Linked DNA regions of Homo sapiens. The protein of the gene in region 2 interacts with the protein of the main gene of each other region in a biochemical or structural test. Each region holds a gene or a part of one and is shown on either strand. Other genes may lie near its edges.

The links.
Region 1: the proteins of MAVS (region 2) and CNTN1 form a complex in vitro, tested with the Homo sapiens proteins (one study listed by BioGRID).
Region 3: the proteins of MAVS (region 2) and SGTA form a complex in vitro, tested with the Homo sapiens proteins (one study listed by BioGRID).

The regions. Positions count from the first base shown.
Region 1 is NC_000012.12:41,066,419-41,072,923, reverse strand, and holds the end of CNTN1 (contactin-1 isoform 1 precursor), read right to left. Parts: intron 2,966-6,505; coding exon 2,889-2,965; 3' UTR 509-2,888; downstream 1-508. UniProt on the Homo sapiens protein: Contactins mediate cell surface interactions during nervous system development.
Region 2 is NC_000020.11:3,849,825-3,856,852, reverse strand, and holds part of MAVS (mitochondrial antiviral-signaling protein), read right to left. Parts: intron 2,296-7,028; 5' UTR 2,229-2,295; coding exon 2,112-2,228; intron 1-2,111.
Region 3 is NC_000019.10:2,773,266-2,780,293, forward strand, and holds part of SGTA (small glutamine-rich tetratricopeptide repeat-containing protein alpha), read right to left. Parts: intron 1-7,028. UniProt on the Homo sapiens protein: Co-chaperone that binds misfolded and hydrophobic patches-containing client proteins in the cytosol. Mediates their targeting to the endoplasmic reticulum but also regulates their sorting to the proteasome when targeting fails.

The DNA.
Region 1 (6,505 bases), on a different chromosome or scaffold from region 2:
CCAGAATCCAGGGTGAAGCAAGCTTCATGAAACAGGAAGGGAGATGAGAATTCCAATGCGAAACCACGATCAGAACACAGGAGAAAATGGGAAGGCAGGACACAGGCAGCCGTGGGATGCAGTTTTCTGGGCCCAGCCTGTCTCAGGACTCAGAAGCTTTACCTGTAGCAGACTCCTCCTATAGATTCATGCCATTATGCAGATACCTCTATTCCAGACTCGCTCATTCAGGGTTACAAAGTCTCATTTTCTTAGCATCTAGCAGCTGGCTTTAGTGTTTCACTTTACATTGAATGATATTCACTGACATCTTTATGGGTTGAAGTTATTTACCAGGTGAACTTATTTCAATGTAATAATGACTCTGTGTGTGTTTCTATGTGTGTACTTTTTGTAGTACTTCAAATACTGAACTGTTGCTTAACCAGAATATTTATTCCCTGCTATCGAACTTGTAATGAAAACCTTCTAAAAAATTTAAACTTGAGGTAAATTGAAAGGACAGTTGTTCTTTCTTGGGTAACATAAGACATTTATTACTTTATACTAATTTTTTCATTCATAAAAAGGACAAAGCACAGTCCTATACTACTCCATTGAAAAAATGATAAAAAATAACTAAAAAATCAATTCAATATTTATCAGTATCAAATAAAACTACTATCACCTTTCCTGAAATACAAAGAAACAACAGATGTATCTATACCTATATAAAGTTTAATTCAGAATCTTGCGTCTTAAAGCAGATGATTATTAGTTAGCTTGACAACAGTTTAAAACTGATGGTCCCAGTTAAATCTGTACAACTGTATGAGAAAATGAAAAGCTTGAGTTATCAGTGTACGAGAGATTTTAAACTACTTTATCTCTGTCAGAAATTCAAAACTAAACAACCTCCAAAGTCTGTTTTCCTCTTACCTTTCAGAACCATTTCATGCAAAATCTAACCAGTTTTGCTCGTTATTATCATATATTAGAAAATAAAAGGCAAGCATGCATTTGGCAAAAGATTTAGTTGTTGATTATATAAAAATGCCCAACATGGGTCACATTGCAAAAGTAAAACCCCAAAGTGTAACAATGAAAACACAAACATTTGTACAGAAGGTATACAGGGTATTCGTTTCCCTAAAGTATGAAGACATTTTGTTTCTTTTTCAAATACTTAAATATTTTATGAAATCTGGCAATGATCTTAAGACTGTTGACATACTTCCACTGGGAAATCATCCATTTCACTTATTTTTAAAAGTTTCATTTTATACCAGAGTTAAATGTAAACTAATGAAATATTTATTGATATTTTCATAATGAAGACTCTAAACATTTACACATCGATATATAGTACAAAAATTATACAAATTAAAGAAAGGGGGTAAAGTCGGTAAAGTAGTAATAGATCTATTTTGCTTCCTGTAAATATTTTTTACGAACCTATACGGTGTCCTTTCTAAAAAGATAAACTCTAATTAGCTAGCAAGTTTGTGCTAATAAAATAGGATTATACCTCTTGAAGCATCCAACACTGCACTATTTCACAAGCCAGCTAATTCTTTATTACTCGATTTCTTTTACATCCACACTCAAACACATTTCCATGCACACCATGGAGAATGAAGAAATGTGCATCTTCCTTTTCACAACTTATAAAAACCCAAAGCACCAACACTTGGGAGACACCATCGGAAAGACATATTATTTGCCTCCTCCTGGCCTTCCAGTTTTGCATACTCTTCAAAGTACCATTAGCAGTATATTGATTTGGTATTTTTAGCCAGTTTTCAGTATTGCATTGAAGTGGGAAATGAGCTTAAAACTAATTATTATTATTATTATTATTGTTATTTTTACAAAATGGAATACGGTAGCTTTTTCAACCTACAGGTGACTTTTTGATCTGACATCTGCAATAAAGAAACGTAATACTTAGGAATGAAGCAGAAAAACCAACATACTAGTAATTGTGATATTCACTTAACTGTCACTTATTCCTAACCATGTAAAGACTGTCACATCTCAATAAAAAAGGAAGCACTCTACTTTTCAAAATTTGTCACTCCACATATGAACAAATATAGCAATATTATGATACTCTAGATAAGAGCTGTGATTTTTGAGATTTGAAATTGATAAGAAAAGCATAAAATAACTTCAGAGTAGAATATAAAAGTAAAAAAAAATCTATATGGTATGTTAACTTTACTATTAAAAAACTGATTCTGAAAATCAAATATTTAGAAAATTATTTCCTTTGAAAATAAGAATACTGATAGTAAGTTCTAGAATTTGGTTTTCAATAGTCAAAATCTTTCAACTCATGATTTGATAATGGGATTTCTGACAAAATATTTGTTACACTCTATTGTCTTTTCAAGAAAACTCAAGATGTCATGAATGATAGGGGCCATTCAATAATATGCAGTACCCAAAACAGTGAGGAAAGTACAAGAGACTGTATTACTCTTACATTTACCACATACAACCAACATTTCAATCTCTATTATATTTCACAACTTGTTATTAAATTTAAAGCACCTGTATATGGTGATTTGACTTTCACTCTACAGCCTATAGTATTGAATTGAACACTGTAACTTGTCCCATTGGGTTAAATCATGCAACTGTCACAGAATCAGGTTAAGTGGTTTATAAGGCATATTGGAACGAGTTAAAAATCATTTATATCCATTTAAAAGTTTATTCTTTTGGATGAAGGGGTTCCCGAATGCCTCAGTCATCATGTGTGTTGTAAATCAGTTGAATAGTTTGTTAAAGTATAATTTATTTGGCTTAGGATGGAGCCGCAGAAATTGGAAGGAATTGTGGTCATCCCAGGGTTGAAGGGTGTCTTCTGAGCTGGGATGGGAACAGCAGCTGTCACAACACATTCAGAATTCCAAGTAGACAAGGATGCCAAAGGCAGGCAGCAGTAAGCCGAGAAGACTTGGGGATAGGGTGGGTGCACCTGCAAGGTAAACCAAAAGTGTGCATATTATTTCATTGATACATGTCACTATTGCTCATTTAGTCTGCTTCAGCTAAGGCGAGATTGCATAGCCCTGGAAAACAAATGGGTCCTTTCACAAAACAGAATCTCTTATTCTTACATGATTTAAGAAAAACAAAAGCTTTTGATCAAAGATTTTCTGTGTGAGACCATGTGAACTGTTTACACAACATGATTAATCATTTAAAATAATATGATCACAAATGTGTATGCTGTCCCTATGATCCAGCAGTCCCAAATTCCTACCAGAAGGCAAAATGTCAAGAAACATATATACATGCATTAAAAAAGTAAGTTTTAAAAATAAGATAAAGTTGTGGGGTGGGGGGAGTGGGGAGGGATAGCATTAGGAGATATACCTAATGCTAAATGACGAGTTAATGGGTGCAGCACACCAACATGGCACTTGTATACATATGTAACAAACCTGCACATTGTGCACATGTACCCTAAAACTTAAAGTATAATAATAATAAAATGTAAAAAAAGAGATACAGTAAAAATACTAATAATTTTTCCTGAAACAATGACAACATAGGTATGCTAGGTAAATCTTGCATAATTTCACATCCCAATGGTTTTAAGACATTTATACATTTATACAGAATGACTTAAGTAATGTATTTCTGATATTAAATAATCTCATTCAATTTTTATCTAAAGAACAATTGCCCTGAGATATTACACTGTGAATTAAAAATTGAAATGATGTATTATAATATGCTATGGACTTAATTTACGTCTTGGGTGACACTTAGAAGGGCTACTCCTGTAGTCAAGTAAGTTTATGGGTCCGTGTCCTGCCGACATGAGAATTTTTGAGAAACTATTGTAAAGTAGGACCAAAAAGTCATACTCTTTCTTCCCAATGTCCACAACTATTAGGCACTATCTTCTTTTTAAATAAATTAATTATTATTTTTTAAGATACAGGGTCTTGTTCTATTGCTCAGGCTGGAGTGCAGTGGTTCAGTCATAGCTGACTGCAGCCTCAAACTCCTGGGCCCATGTGATCCTCCTGCCTCAGTCTCCCAAAGTGCTGGGATTACAGGCATAAGCCACCATGCCTGGCTGGCACTATCTTCAATGAACATGCTGCTAGAATGAGTGAAGACCTAAAAAATTTAGTCAATGGCTTACTAATATAACAGTTTTCATTAATTTTTGGAAGTTTACTCTCTAAATTTGAAACCACCAAATAAATTATTATTATCTATCACATTAAAAGTGACCATAAACAGCTCATTCTTTGGCATGGTCCTTTTATATTCAGGGAGATTTAGTGCATTTCTCCTGAATCTCTGGTCATTAAAAGCACATTCATGTTCCCTATAAGGTGGAAGATAATAGTGTCTGTCTGCTTGCTTGTCTTCAACATTGCCCTGCCTGGGGCTTTTGGAGCTGCCTGGAAACATAAGAGGGAAAGCTTTATCGGATACAGATAAAGTAGTTCTTAGAAATGAGCAGGAAAGTGAGGGTCAAAAGGTGAGGGCAGATAACAAGGGGAATATAAACAGCCCTCAAGTAGCAGAGCTCCTAAGGACACTATCAATAACAATAGTAAACTTATCATTACTTTGAGAGATGCTACTTACTGCCCTACAGCCAGCTACAAGACTATGTTGGCTCATTATGTAGATTATGACATGACTACAACAACCTACAATGGTAGGTCTTTTACCCTAATTTTATATATTTTGTAACTGAGTCAGGTAAAATGAGTTGCTCAAGTCCAATAGTCACTAGAGGGCAGAGAAGGGATTAGAATTCAAATTTGTCCAGCTGCAAAGGCCATGCACTTTTGACCTCTCTGCCGTGTTCTTGCAGGTAGCTTTAGCAAGGGACTGGTTTTAGAAATGCAGAAGGAAACTGCGCTCTGCACTTAATGTATCAAGGCAAGGGCACAGAAGGAAAATAATAAATGTCATATGGAAAAAAGCTAACACATAAACTGTTTCAAAGAGATCTTTGTATTCTTGTAATTTTTTTTATCTTCTACTTTTCTACAAATTTTTTAAAATATGCCACAGACCACACATTATTTTATTCTGATAAGATGCCCAATAATAAACCTCAATCACACAGTAAAACCTTTAAACGTCAATGTTTGACCCAGTGTAAATGATCCATCCTGAAGCCTTTTTTTTTTTATTATACTTTAAGTTTTAGGGTACATGTGCACATTGTGCAGGTTAGTTACATATGTATACATGTGCCATGCTGGTGCGCTGCACCCACTAACTCGTCATCTAGCATTAGGTATATCTCCCAATGCTATCCCTCCCCCCTCCCCCACCCCACCACAGTCCCCAGAGTGTGATATTCCCCTTCCTGTGTCCATGTGATCTCATTGTTCAATTCCCACCTATGAGTGAGAATATGCGGTGTTTGGTTTTTTGTTCTTGTGATAGGAATTGGAAATCATCATTCTGAAGCCTTTTTTGTCTGAGGATGACTGCAGGGTCTCCACAATGCTCTGTCTTTTGACCACAAATTACATCTATCATGGGGACATGTTTATGTACTTGGCTGAATATGTGGGTTGGCAAAGTACAAACTGTGGCTGCTCGAAAGAAATTTAGTGAATTGTGGATGCCATCTTGATGTTTTGGTACTAGTATGAAAACCAAATACAATTTCATAATTTGTGGCTTTGACATCAGGATATTTGAAATAAACTCTCCATGTTTACGTGTGTTATATTTAATTTCTCTAATGGCTCAAGCTTATGTAATTTTGGTCTTCATCTTTACTTCTATCCCACATTCCAAACAGAAATTAGAGACCGAATTGAAGTACTATCTAATGTCATTTTAAATGACATATATTCTTGAGGAGTTTTTCAATATATATTGGTTTTGAATCTAACAACATATATATCAGAATACTGCTATCAATCATAATTCTGGTACTTATGTGTTATATAGTAAACACATATTTTGCTTTTCACATAGCTGATGAATGTTAAACCTGAACAAATCATTGATCTTGTGAATAATTTTTCTCTATCAGAAGAAATGTAAAACCAATTTGGAGTACTATATCTCTTCCATGGGAATTCTTGATTTTTTTTTAAATCTAAACTTTGATTTCATACTTCCTTCAGGGAGAATTCCCGCTATATGGAGAGTGATGCTGAAAACAGACATTTCAATTAAAAGTTGAGCAGTACTGCAGGCTTTCTGATAAGTAGAAAACTGCTCTACTTGGTTTTTAATACAAACTTCCTTTCTGATTCTTCAATCTGGACACTGTGATGCAGTCTTTGTTTCTACTGCTTGCCTATTGCTGACGATGCCATAACATTTAGAATTTTCTCTTTGTGGTGTCACATTTTGTGACCACAACTGCTAATATCTCTATATTATGAACAACTTCAAGACAGAGATGATATCCAAATTATGTTTTAGCTGTGTTGACTAATACCAAGCCTAGTGCATAGAAAGTACTCAACCTATAATGTTAAATGATTGAGTTATGCCTCCATTGTAGGCCCTG
Region 2 (7,028 bases):
CATGTTGGCCAGGCTGGTCTCGAACTCCTGACCTCAGGTGATCCACCCGCCTTGGCCTCCCAAAGCGCTGGGATTACAGGCGTGAGCCACCGTGCCCAGCCCTAGAGTTTTTATGTCTACCTGAATTCTCACATAAAAACAAGCAACCAGACAGCAGAAACAAAAACCCACAGAATCCTGCAGGAGCTAGATTTTTAGAAAAAGGAAAATAGCCAGGTGCGGTAGCTCACACCCGTAATCCCAGCACTTTGGAAGGCCGAGGATCACAAGGTCAGGAGTTCAAGACCAGCCTGACCAACATGGTGAAAGTCCGTCTCTACTAAAAACACAAAAATTAGCCGGGTGTGGTAGCATATACCTGTAATCCCAGCTACTCAGGAGGCTGAAGCAGGAGAATTGCTTGAACCCAGGAGGCAGAGGTTGACCCAAGATGGCACCACTGCAACTCCAGCCTGGAAGACACAGCGAGACTCCATCTCAAAAAAAAAAAAAAAAAAAATGCTGGGCGCAGTGGCTCACGCCTGTAATCCCAGCACTTTGGGAGGCCGAGGCGGGTGGATCATGAGGTCAGGAGATCGAGACAATCCTGGCTAACACAGTGAAACCCCGTCTCTATTAAAAATACAAAAAATTAGCCGGGCATGGTGGCAGGCGCCTGTAGTCCCATCTACTCAAGAGGCTGAGGCAGGAGAATGGCGTGAACCCAGGAGGCAGAGCTTGCAGTGAGCCGAGATCACACCACTGCACTCCAGCCTGGGCGACAGAGTGAGACTCCGTCTCAAAAAAAAAAAAAAATCGTGCCACTGCACTCCAGCCTGAGTGACAGAGCAAGACTCTGTCTCAAAAATAAAAATAAAGACCAGCCTGGCCAACATGGTGAAACTCCATCTCTACTACAAATACAAAATCAGCCAGGTGTGGTGGCATGCGCCTGTAACCCCAGCTACTCAGGAGGCTGAGGCGCGAGAATCACTTGAACCCAGGAGGCAGAGGTTGCAGTGAGCTGAGATCATGCCATTGCACTGCAGCCTGGGCAACACAGCGAGACTCCGTCTCAAAAAAAAATTTTTTAAAGAAAATAAAGAAAACCCACAGAAAATATTTACTATAAAACAAGATATCCCTATAAACCCCAAAATACAAGAGGGAGGAGCAAACTCCAAACAGACCTGCATACTAATGCGATCTGTGTGGGAGGACAGCGGAGACAACAATGGGGCTCCTGAGAAATCTGAGGACAGGAGGCCCCAAAAGAGCCAACAGGTACCCTCTGGAGCACAGGGGTCCAATCTGAGAACAGCAGCTACAACGGGGAGGGGTTGTGCCCGTTTCACCAGCTAGTGAGTGCCAGGGGCCTGCAGCAAGTTCTGTTGGGGCTAGAGCGACCCTGATCCTGCCAGCTCTCAAACCTGAGTCCCAGCTCCGTGCCAGGACAGGGCCCCATGACAAGGAGAATGGAATCAAAACTGAGCAGGACAAGGAAGGGCAAGAGAGATGAAGGAAATAGGAGGTTCCAAAAAAAGTGGGCAAGTGGACCAGAGCCAGGAAATCTCAGAGAGCCAGCGCCATATTTTTGAGCAGTGCACAAAAGCAACACAAGGGGGAGCTCGGCGAAGTCAGCAACGCCACCCTGAGCCACACTCCATCCAAAAGTTAGAAAAGCAGCAAGGGTGCGGTGGCTCACGCCTGTAATCCCAGCACTTTGGGAGGCCGAGGCAGGCGGATCACAAGGTCAAGAGATCAAGACCATCCTGGCCAACATGGTGAAACCCCGTCTCTATTAAAAACAAAAAAATTAGCTGGGCGTGGTGGCACGCACCTGTAATCCCAGCTACTCAGGAGGCTGAGGCAGGAGAATCACTTGAACCCAGGAGGCGGAGGTTGCAATGAGCCAAGATCGTGCCACTGCACTCCAGCCTGGCGACAGAACGAGACTCAATCTCAAAAAAAAAAAAAAAAAAGAAAAGCAGCAAGGACAAGGAGCAAGACACAGCAAGAGGAAGAAGGAAGGAGCCAGCCCAGGCTTGGGTGAGGAACTAGGATGGGGCTGAGCTTTGAATTCCACAGCCCTGCCCCCAGGCCAGTGTCGGGCTGTCACTTCCCTTGCTCACCTGGTCTCTTGCTGTGAGGCAGGGCAGGTAAGGCAGAATCTCTACAACATCCACATTGCAAAAATTGCTGAAATTGCGGCAGATATACTTATAGGTCTTGTCTTCAGCAAACGGCATTGCTGCTCAGATTCTGGAGAGAGGGCTCTGGCCCCATGAAGGGTGGATGGACTGAGAGGAAACGAGACTGGAAGAAAACAGATCACACATTACAACAGGGTTGGGGGGTTGGGAGTGGGGCTGGACAAAAGGCAATTCTTTCTCAACTTTTTGGAATGTTTGTTTTCTTTCATCTTTAATTTCTTCTTTTTTTTTTTTTTGAGAGCGAGTCTCACTTTGTCACCCAGGCTGGAGTGCAGTGGGGCAATCTCGGCTCACTGCAACCTCCGCCTCCTGGGTTCAATTGAGTCTCTTGCCTCAGCCTCCCTTCTGAGTAGCTGGGATTACAGGTGCGCACCACCATGCCCAGCTAATTTTTGTATTTTTAGTAGAGATGGGGTTTCACCATGTTGGCAAGCTGGTCACAGACTCCTGACCTCAAGTGGTCCACCCGCCTCGGCCTCCCAAGTTTGGGGATTACAGGTGTGAGCCACCACACCTGGCCGTTTTTGTTTTGTTTTATTTTGTTTTTAAGAGATGGGGTCTCGGGCTGGGCACAGTGGTTCACGCCTATAATCCCAGCACTTTGGGAGGCCAATTTGGGGGATTAACTGAGGTCGGGAGTTGGAGACCAGACTGACCAACATGGAGAAAATCCCGTCTCTACTAAAAATACAAAAAAAAAAAAAAAATAGCTGGGCATGGTGGCGCATGCCTGTAATCCCAGCTACTCGGGAGGTTGAGGCAGGAGAATTGCTTGAACCTGGGGGCAGAGGTTGCGGTGAGCCAAGATTGCACCATTGCACTCCAGCCTGGGCAACAAGAGCGAAACTCTGTCTCAAAAACAAACAAACAAACAGATGGGGTCTCTGTCACCCAAGTTGGGTGCAGTGGTGCAATAATAGTTCACTGCAGCCTCGAACTCGTGGGCTCAAGCAATCCTCCCGCCTCAGCATCCCCGGTAGCTGGAACTACAAACCTGCGCCACTATGCCCAGCTAATTTTTTTATTTTTTCTAGAGACAGGGTCTCATGATGCTGCCCAGGCTGGTCTCAAACGCCTGGCCTCAAGCGATCCCCCTGCCTCCGCCTGTCAAGTAGCTCGGATGACAAGCACCAGCCAATGTGTCCAGCCACCTTTAATTTCTTTTTTTTTTTTTTGAGACGGAGTCTTTCTCTGTCGCCCAGGCTGGAGTGCGGTGGCGCGATCTCGGCTCACTGCAAGCTCCGCCTCTCGGGTTCACGCCATTCTCCTGCCTCAGCCTCCTGAGTAGCTGGGACGACAGGCGCCCGCCACCACGCCCGGCTAATTTTTTTGTATTTTAGTAGAGACGGGGTTTCACGGGGTTAGCCAGGATGGTCTCGATTTACTGACCTCGTGATGCGCCCGCCTCGGCCTCCCAAAGTGCTGGGATTACAGGCGTGAGCCACCGCGCCCGGCCGCCATCTTTAATTTCTGTAAACATCCTATTTTATTACTGCCTGAGTCTCTCCAAAATTCCTGCAGAACCCGGGCGCGGTGGCTCACGCCTGTAACCCCAGCACGTTGGGAGGCCGAGGCGGATGGATCACGAGGTCAGGAGTTCAATACCAACTTGGCCAAGATGGTGAAACCCCGTCTCTACTGAAAATACAAAAAAATTAGCCAAGCATGGTGGCGGGCGCCTGCAGTCCCAGCTATTCAGGAAGCTGAGACAGAGAATTGCTTGAACCCAAGAGGCGGAGGTTGTAGTGAGCCGAGATCACGCCACTGCACTCCAGCCTGGGCGGCAGAGTGAGACTCCGTCTCAAAAAAAAAAAAAAAAAAAAAAATTCTGCAGAATTTGCTAAAAATGAATTGATGACCACCAGCTACTCAAGAAGCTAGGGCAGGAGGATCGCTTGAGCCCAGCTGTTCGAGGCCAGCCTGGGCAACACAGCGAGACCCTGTCTCTAAAAAAATAAAAATAAAAATAATTGAAGACCAAAAAGAATCAGATCCAGAATACCTAGGGCCCATTTCTTCTCTGCAGGTTGGTCAGCACTGGGAAGGTCTGCATGTACCCCTAGCACATGCGGTGGGGGGATCTGTATGTGACCCTAGTTTCTGTGCCTATAAATGTCCTGGCTCCCTTCCTGGCTCTAAGGCCCTCAAGCTGATAGCAAGAGGGCTATACCTAAACGTGCTGCTGCTTTGGGACACACTGAAAAAATAAAAAGTGAACCCCAACATGATAATAATCGGATCATCCCGCTTTAAAGAAGAAACTGAGGTATGCTTGCTAGTTAGTAGAAGAAGAAAGAACTGAGATCTTCAGGTCAGCTTCTTTCCATGACATGGCTGCAGGCCCACCATTAAAGCCTGCTACACATAGGCCGGGCACGGTGGCTCACGCCTGTAATCCCAGCACTTTGGGAGGCCGAGGCGGGTGGATCACGAGGTCAGGAGATCAAGACCATCCTGGCTAACACGGTGAAACCCCGTCTCTACTAAAAATACAAAAAATTAGCCCGGCGTACTGGCGGGTGCCTGTAGTCCCAGCTACTCGGGAGGCTGAGGCAGGAGAATGGCGTGAACCTGGGAGGCGGAGCTTGCAGTGAGCCAAGATTGCGCCACTGCACTCCAGCCTGGGCGACAGAGCCAGATTCCGTCTCGGGGGAAAAAAAAAAAAAAAAAGCCTGCTACACATACATTCTTTTTTTCTTTTTTGAGACAGAGTTCCAGACTCTTGTTGCCCAGGCTGGAGTACAATGGCACAATCTCGGCTCATCGCAACCTCTGCCTTCCGGGTTCAAGTGATTCTTCTGCCTCAGCCTCCTGAGTAGCTGGAATTACAGACATGCACCACCACACCTGGTTAATTTTGTATTTTTAGTAGAGACAGGGTTTCTCCATGTTGGTCAGGCTGGTCTTGAACTCCTGACCTCAGATGATCTGCCTGCCTTGGCCTCCCAAAGCGCTGGGATTACAGGCGTGAGCCACCATGCCCGGCCCACATACATTCTTAAGATAGGAGACTGAGTTCCATGCCTTGAACTCACTGTGTGTCCTGGGCAAGTTATCAGTTTCCAGACTTCCTCACCCTTAAAACGGCTCAGATAGCAGCTTGTTTTGACAGTACGGTAATTCAGCCTTATAAACTTTTTTTTTTTTTTTTTTTTTTGAGACAGAGTCTCCCTGTCGCCCAGGCTGGAGTGCAGTGGTGTGATCTCGGCTCACTGCAGCCTCCATCTCCCACATTCAAGCAATTCTCCTGCCTCAGCCTCCCGAGTAGCTGGGATTACACGTGCCCACCATCATGCCTGGCTAATTTGTTTGTTTGTTGTTGTTGTTGTTTTTGAGAAAGAGTCTCGCTCTGTTGCCCAGGCTGGAGTGCAGTGGCGTAATCTCGGTTCACTGCAACCTCTGCTTCTCGGGTTTAAGCAATTCTCCTACCTCAGCCTCCCGAGTAGCTGGGATTACGGGTACACGCCACCATGCCTGGATAATTTTTATATTTTTAGTAGAGACGGGGTTTTATATGTTTTAATGTTGGCCAGGCCGGTCCTGAACTCCTGACCCCAGGTGATCTGCCTGCCTTGGTCTCCCAAGTTGCTAGGATTACAGGCGCCAGCCAACGCGCCTGGCCAATTTTTGTATTTTTTAGTAGAGACAGGGTTTCACCATGTTGGCCAGGCTGGTCTCGAACTCTTGACCTCAAGTGATCCTCTTGCCTTGGCCTGCACAGTGCTGAGCCACTGTGGCCGGCCTCTAAGCTTAAATTTTTTTTTTTTTTTTTTTTGAGACGGAGTTTCGCTCTGTCACCAAAGCTGGAGTGCTGTGGTGCAATCTCGGCTCACTGCAAGCTCCACCTCCTGGGTTCACACCATTCTCCTGCCTCAGCCTCCCGAGTAGCTGGGACCACAGGCGCCCGCCACCACACCCGGCTAATTTTTTGTATTTTTAGTAGAGATAGGGTTTCACCGTGTTAGCCAGGATGGTCTCAATCTCCTGAACTCGTGATCCGCCTGCCTCGGCCTCCCAAAGTGCTGGGATTACAGGCGTGAGCCACTGCGCCTGGCCTTTTTTTTTTTTTTTGAAATGGAGTTCACTCTTTTTGCCCAGGCTGGAGTACAATGGCGCGATCTCGGCTCACTGCAACCTCTGCCTCCTGGGTTCAAGCGATTCTCCTGCCTCAGCCTCCCAAGTAGCTGGGATTACAGGCATGAGCCACCACGCCCCGCTAATTTTGTATTTTTAGTAGAGACAGGGTTTCACCATGTTCCGGTCTCGAACTCCCGACCTCAGGTGATCCGCTCACCTCGGCCTCCCAAAGTGCTGAGATTTACAGGCGTGAGCCACCGCGCCCAGCAGCTTAAAAAAATTTCTTTTTTTTTTTTTTTTTTTTTTTTTGAGACAGTCTCGCTCCTTCACCCAGGCTGGAGTGCAGTGGTGCAATCTCGGCTCACTGCAAGCTCCGCCTCCCGGGTTCACACCATTCTCCTGCCTCAGCCTCCCAAGTAGCTGGGACTACAGGCGCCTGCTACCACGCTCGGCTAATTTTTTGTATTTTTAGTAGAGACAGGTTTCACCGTGTTAGCCAGGATGGTCTCGATCTCCTGACCTCGTGATCTGCCCGCCTCGGCCTCCCAAAGTGCTGGGATTACAGGCATGAGCCACCGCGCCCAGCCAGCTTAAAAATTTTTAAGTGCCTCAAATATAAGCAATTGCTGCCAGTTGTTTATGTAGGAGTTACCACAATTTGCAGTTATAGATGTATTTGCTCGTTACTTTTCTGCCGCCCCCATCAGGGAGTGCTGCAGGGAATAAAAGAGACAAGGTCTATGCCACATCCAATTTATA
Region 3 (7,028 bases), on a different chromosome or scaffold from region 2:
GCGGCCACAGGGCAGGGACACCGAGGGCAGAGATGGGTGACGCGGCCACACGGCGGGGACACCGAGGGCAGAGGTGGGTGACGCGGCCACACGGCAGGGACACCGAGGGCAGAGGTGGGTGACGCGGCCACACGGCAGGGACTCCGAGGGCAGAGGTGGGTGACGCGGCCACACGGCAGGGACACCGAGGGCAGAGATGGGTGACGCGGCCACACGGCAGGGACACCGAGGGCAGAGGTGGGTGACGCGGCCACAGGGCAGGGACACCGAGGGCAGAGGTGGGTGACGCGGCCACACGGCAGGGACACCGAGGGCAGAGGTGGGTGACACGGCCACACGGCAGGGACTCCGAGGGCAGAGATGGGTGACGCGGCCACAGGGCAGGGACACCGAGGGCAGAGATGGGTGACGCGGCCACACGGCAGGGACACCGAGGGCAGAGATGGGTGACGCGGCCACACGGCGGGGACACCGAGGGCAGAGGTGGGTGACGCGGCCACACGGCGGGGACACCGAGGGCAGAGGTGGGTGACGCGGCCACACGGCAGGGACACCGAGGGCAGAGGTGGGTGACGCGGCCACACGGCAGGGACACCGAGGGCAGAGGTGGGTGACACGGCCACACGGCAGGGACTCCGAGGGCAGAGATGGGTGACGCGGCCACACGGCAGGGACTCCGAGGGCAGAGATGGGTGACGCGGCCACAGGGCAGGGACACCGAGGGCAGAGATGGGTGACGCGGCCACACGGCAGGGACACCAGATTGCCCTCACGTCCTCACAAGGAACGAGCCCCGACAGAACCTTGATCATGGACTTCCGGCCTCCAGGACTGAGAGACGATGAACTCTGTTTCAGCTGCCTGGTCTATGGCACTCTGTCACCGCGGCCCCAGCAAACCGACACTAACACCTGGCAAGCAGGCATCTCAGGACGCACCTCAGTCCTCGTGACGACTCCAACAAGCGGGTCGGCCCTGTCTCCAGCTGAACTGAGCCAGGTTGGGCAGGGACGCGTGGTCGCATGCCCAGGATCACATAGACAGGAGAACAAACGGGCTGTCATCACACGGAAGGGAGCAGTGAAGGGCGGTGGCCGAGGGACACGGAGGGAGGGAGCAGCTGCGCGTTGCTCACTGTGCTGCGGTCCCAGGAGCCAGCTGCCCGAGGGGCAGCTTCTTTTATAAGAAAACGACACTTCCTATCACGTCTATGCAAATGTCCATTTTAACTTTAAGTGCACAGATGTCTAATGGCCCGAGACACGTAGGTTAACACCCGTGCACGCGTACACAGAGGCCTTCACCTACAACCATCCCCGTGTAGACAGCATCAGAGGCAGGGCACCAAAAGCATTAAAACCATGCAGATGACCTACCTGAGCACTTCGCAGACCTAGAACGTCAACTATGTAAAATACCTGCCCATGAACATTGGCAAACTCCTGGCCTCAAGCAATCCTCCCACCCTGGCCTCCCAAAGCGCTGGGATCACAGGTGTGAGCCACCATACCCGGCCTCCTCCAGGAGGCAAATGCTGAGGAAAGCCGTGGATTCTACTGACCCACTGGATTTTGCTGAAGCTGTGTGCGCGCGCATGTGTGTGTGTGCGTGCATGTCTCTCCAGATTCTGTCTCTCTCCCAGACCAGCGGTTCTCGATGGATGTGCTGAGACACTTGGTGTTGTCTCACATGGAGTGGGGGGAGGCCAGGGACGCTGCTCAGTGCCCTGGAGTGCCCAGGACGGCTCCATCCCAGAGGATGATCCGGCCTCAACATCCACAGCTCCCACTGGGAGAAAGCTGGACTAGAAGAGGAGGACCTGAAGAGCCTGTGGGTGCACCAGGCCCTTGACACAACACCGTCTCATGACCTCGGCGCAGTGACCTATGCGGCAGGACTGGGGATGGAGGTGTTCACTCAAGGCCACTGGAGCCACAGGCACGGCAGGATCCGCGCCCGGCAGGCGCCTGACCTGCCCCCACACTCAAGATCAGAGGCGTTCAGTGTCTTGGTTCCCCTAAAATGCCTCTACATGAGGTGAACAGCCACCACCCCCTAGAAAATGAGGCGTGGGCTGCCTGACCGCATAACCCACCCCGCGCCAGAGACAAGCAAGGCATTGGCCCGCCACGCTTTAAACAGTGGCTGACGTCAGACTCAGATGACACCGGCGACGTGGACCTCCACGCCACTAAACAAGCATAGTCCCAGACACACTGGGTGTGCCCACAGCTTTGTTTCCCTTTCAGGGAAAGCAACATCCATCAGCAATCATTAAAAAACAAAACAAAACAGAGAGCAAAAGAGCCAGACCCAAAGCACACACAGGGTGTGACACCGACTCCATTTCTATGAAATGTCCAGGACAGGCCCATCCAGAGACAGGAAGGAGACGCGTGGGTGCCGGGGCTTGGGGAGGGGAAGGGGAGTGACAGCTGGTGGGGACCAGCTTCCTTGCTCCCTTTTGGGGCGATGAGACAGCTCTGGAACCAGAGAGTGGTGATGGTTGCACAACCCTGTGAAGGCACCAAATGCCACTGAATTTCACGGTGTGGGGATCACAGCGGTGTGGGAATCACAGCTCAATGTTTTAAAGGGGGAGAAATCTACAAGAGCTGTGTTTTGTGTCGCTGGACAGGGAGTTACGGTCTTCCTGAAAGCTCCTGCGGGATGGTAATGAGTTTTCCGCCCCCATCTCAGGACACAATGGACAGCCCAGAACTTTGAGGTCTGGGATCAGGACTGCCTAGAGCCGGCGGGCAGCCAGTCCCAGAATCCAAAGATCTCATGTACGACACATCAGGGCCCACGGCAGTCAACCACCACCAGAAAGTGAAACCACAAAAGCTGACGTCATCCGCCCCGGCCAACAGGGTTCAGAGAGCAAACCAGTCAGGTCTCCTGACCCCCAAGCCCAAGGAAAACAGACACATGCCACCCGAAAGGTGAAGATTTTTGGTTTACGGAGTTTCTTTTGTTTTATTTTTAAGCACGTTTTGACAACAGCATTACAATAGCCAAAAGCAAACAGCCCAAGTGTCCACGGACAGGTGAGTGGATCAACACAATGTGGCCTAGCCACACGACGGAACGCTACGCAGCCATGAAAAGGAAATCCTGACCAGGCTACAACATGGGCGGACCTTGAGGACGTCGCACTCAGTGAAATAAGCCAGAAACAAAGGTACAAAACCTGTGTGACTCCCCTCCTAGGCGGTCCCTAGAGTCGTTGGATTCACAGAGACCAAAAGTGGAATTGGGGGTGCCAGGGGCTGGGGAGTGAATGTTTCATGGGGACAGAATTTCAGCCTGGGGAGATGAGAAACTTCTGGAGATGATGGTGGCGATGGCTACATAGCTGTGTGAATGTGCTTAAAGCCACTGAACTGTGCATTTATAACTGATTAAGATGGTAATTTTTGGCCTGGCATGGTGGCTCACGCCTGTAATCCCAGAACTTTTGGAGGCAGAGGCAGGTGGATCACCTGAGGTCAGGAGTTTGAGACCAACATGGTGAAACCCCATCTCTACTAAAAATGCAAACAAAATTAGCCAATCATGGTGGCGCACACCTGTAGTCCCAGCTACTCAGGAGGCTGAGGCGGGAGAATCGCTTGAACCCGGGAGGTGGAGGCTGCAGTGAGCTGCGATAGAGCCACTGCACTCCAGCCTGGGTGGCAGAGCAAAACTCCGTCTCAAAAAAAAAAGAAAGACTGGTCGGGCACAGTGGCTCATGCCTGTAATCCCAACACTTTGGGAAGCCGAGGCAGGCGGATCACCTGACATCAGGAGTTCGAGACCAGCCTGACCAACAGGTGAAACCCAGTGTACAAAAAATAGCCGGTCGTAGTGGTGCGCGCCTGTAATCCCAGCTACTTGGGAGGCTGAGGCAGGAGAATCACTTGAACTCGGGAGGTGGAGGTTGCCGTGAGCCAAGATCGCACTACTGTACTCCAGCCTGGGCAATAAGAGCAAAACTCCATCTCAGAAAAAAAAAAAAAGACCAGGCGCAGTGGCTCACACCTGTGATCCCAGCAGCACTTCGGGAGGCCAAAGCGGGGGGATCACTTGAGCATAGGAATTCAAGAGCAGCCTGGGCAACATAGGGAGACCCCATCTCTGCAAAACATTAAAAAATTAGCTGGGTGTGGTGGCACACATCTATAGCCCTAGCTGCTTGAGGGGCTGAGGCAGGAGGATCGCTTGAGCCCAGGAGGTCCGTGCTGCAGTGAGCTGTGATCACACCAATGCACTCCAGCCTGGGAAAGAGAGTGAGACCCTGCCTCAAGAAAAGAGTTTCTCTTCAAAGTCTGGGGTCTTTGAGATGAGGGTCACACCCAACCAGGTGTCTTTAGCTGAGAATGGTGCCGACATCTCTTCAGAGGTTTCATTGGAAATGATTCTGTAACAGGCGGCATCAGGTCAGGATCCCCAGGCAGACACACCTCACTTGGTGACCTCAGATTTGGAAGAGGCAACAGCAAGCAGCAGAAACAAGACCTGGGCCAGGAGCGGTGGCTCAGGCCTATAATCCCAGCACTTTGGGAGGCTGAAGTGGTCTGGAGTTCCTGACCAGCCTGGCTTCTACTAAAAATACAAAAATTAGCCGGGTGTGGTGGCGGGTGCCTGTAATCCCAGCTACTCGGGAGGCTGAGGCAGGAGAGTTGCTTGAACCTGGGAGGTGGAGACTGCACTGAGCTGAGATCGCACCACTGCACGCCAGTCTGGGTGACAAAGCAAGACGTCATCTCAAAAAAAAAAAAAAAAAAAGAAATCAGACCTGGCTGAGTCCCCGCATAAACCTAGAAGGCGGGGGTCACAGCCCCCTCTTACAGAGGGAGTGACAGGCCCAGACAGGTGGCACACGCAAGATCCTACCAGTGACAGCTGGAACTCGGCTTAGCATTCCAGGCACACAGGGCCTAGCACGATCCACGCTGAGGGGTGTGGGGGGCAGGGGTGTGTGTGTGGAGGGGGATGTGCGTTCCTTCGCAGGGAACTAACACAGAATAAACCAAGAAATCTCATCTTTGGTTCTTTGGTGTACCTGTTTCCTTCTCTCTTAAACTGAGGTGTGAGAACTGGACAGGGTGGCAGGTGGCTAGGGACCCAATGAGGGTTCAGAAAGTGGAAAGAGTTGCATTCACTGAGTCACACTCCTCTCTTCCAGTGCCGCCGGTGCCTCTGTACCCCAGGGCTTTTGCACGTGCTGCTTTCCCTCCTGGAACACCGCCCCCCCCGGCCCCCGCCGCCACATCCCAGAGAACCTCTTAGCCTCAGGGTCTCCACCCTACCCCATCCCTGTTACCCTGGGACAGAGCTGAGCAGAAGTGCCCCAGCTTAGACACCCTGGGCTAGGGGATGCCACGGATCCCCAAGAGACTCTGTGTCCCATGATCATTTGCTCTACTAAGGTCCCAGGAGGCTGCACACATTGAAATTCACAAACTATGGAGGATTGCTTGAGCCCAGGAGTTTGAGGCCAACTTGGGCAACAAAGTGAGGCCCTGTCTCTAACAAAACAAAACAAAACAAAAGATAAAATAAATCCACACACTAAGGGGAGAGGGAGCAAGGAGGTGAATCCTAGGAGCTGGGGACCCCCTGATTTCCACCCTCTGCCCAATCAGAAGTTTATTCTGCTGTCCAGTGTGAGCAGGAGCAAGCTCAATTTTTTTCCCAAATAATTAATGCAGGTCTGTCGCCTGTGGCACTGTGGGCATCTTGGGTGGATGATTCTGTCCTGCGCACGGCAGGGGGCTGAGCAGCACCCCTGGCTCCCCCCACTGCACACCAGAAACACTCTCCAGTTGAGACAACCACACATGTCCCCAGACACTGCCAAACCGCCCCCAGCTGTAAATCACTGATGGCCACTAAGTGGGAAGAAAGGCTGGAAGTCAGTACAGGTCAGCTTTTTCTGTCCAAAATGACTTTGCTGTGAGCTTTCTGAAAACCTTCTGCTTGTAGGCTATTCTGGGTTTCAGAACTGCGGGTCCACGGTGGAGGACTGCTCAACTAAGGGAAGCACAGGCCCTGCCCAGCATGTGACACAGGCCAGTGGTGCCAGGACCTGTGGCTTCTCTGCTGTCCCCAAGGTGGGGGACATCATCAAACGGTTCTCAAATCTGCTTCAACAGCCAGGCTTTCCCGTAAGAAAGTTTTCTGCTCTTCAGAGGGGGGTCCAGCAAGCATGAGGACGGCATTTTCCTCAACTGCCGTTTGGCACTCGGTGTCTTTGGAACAATCACAACTTGTAGGGTTTGGCTGTGGGACAGCATCTCAAAGAAGGCCTGCTGTGTCTCCCAACAGCGAGGGCTTTATGGATGCTCAGGAGCCATGGCCGAGGCCTGGTTTCAAGGCAGAGGCCGCAGAAGTGAGGGTGGGAGGGTGCTGGCCCATGGGGGTGGCGCCAGCTCCAATGTTGGGGGCTTCAGCGTCCCTTTCGGCTCTGAGCCGATGACTCCACATCCCACCTTTTCATTTTATCATTAAAATAAAAACAAAATCAAAACACAGCCACCTCGGTCGGGGCGGTGGCTCACACCTGTAATCCCAGCACTTTGGGAGGCCGAGGTGGGAGAATCGCTTGAGTCCAGGTGTTTAAGACCAGCTTGGGCAATACAGTGTATAGTGAGACCCTACAAAAGAGACTCTAAAAAAAAAAAATAGAATTAGCCTGATGTGGCGGCACACACTAGTAGTCCCAGCTACTTGGGAGGCTGAGGCGAGAGGATTGTTTAAGCCCAGGAGTTGGAGGCTGCAGTGAGCTGTGATTGGGCCCTGCACTCCAGCCTGGGTGACAAAGTGAGACCCTGTCTCTAAAAACAAACAAAAAACTCACAACCACCTCTCTTCCTTATTTCCCTGCCCAGAAGGGATCATTCAATGGAAAAAAATAGAACATCCTCGTAAACTGAGGTCGTCTTACCTCCTCACACCCCAGTAGGAAGGGCCCGCTCTTACCCACTACCTTCTGTGAACACTCTGCCCAACTCCATCCCAAATCCACGGTGCTTCTCACCAAC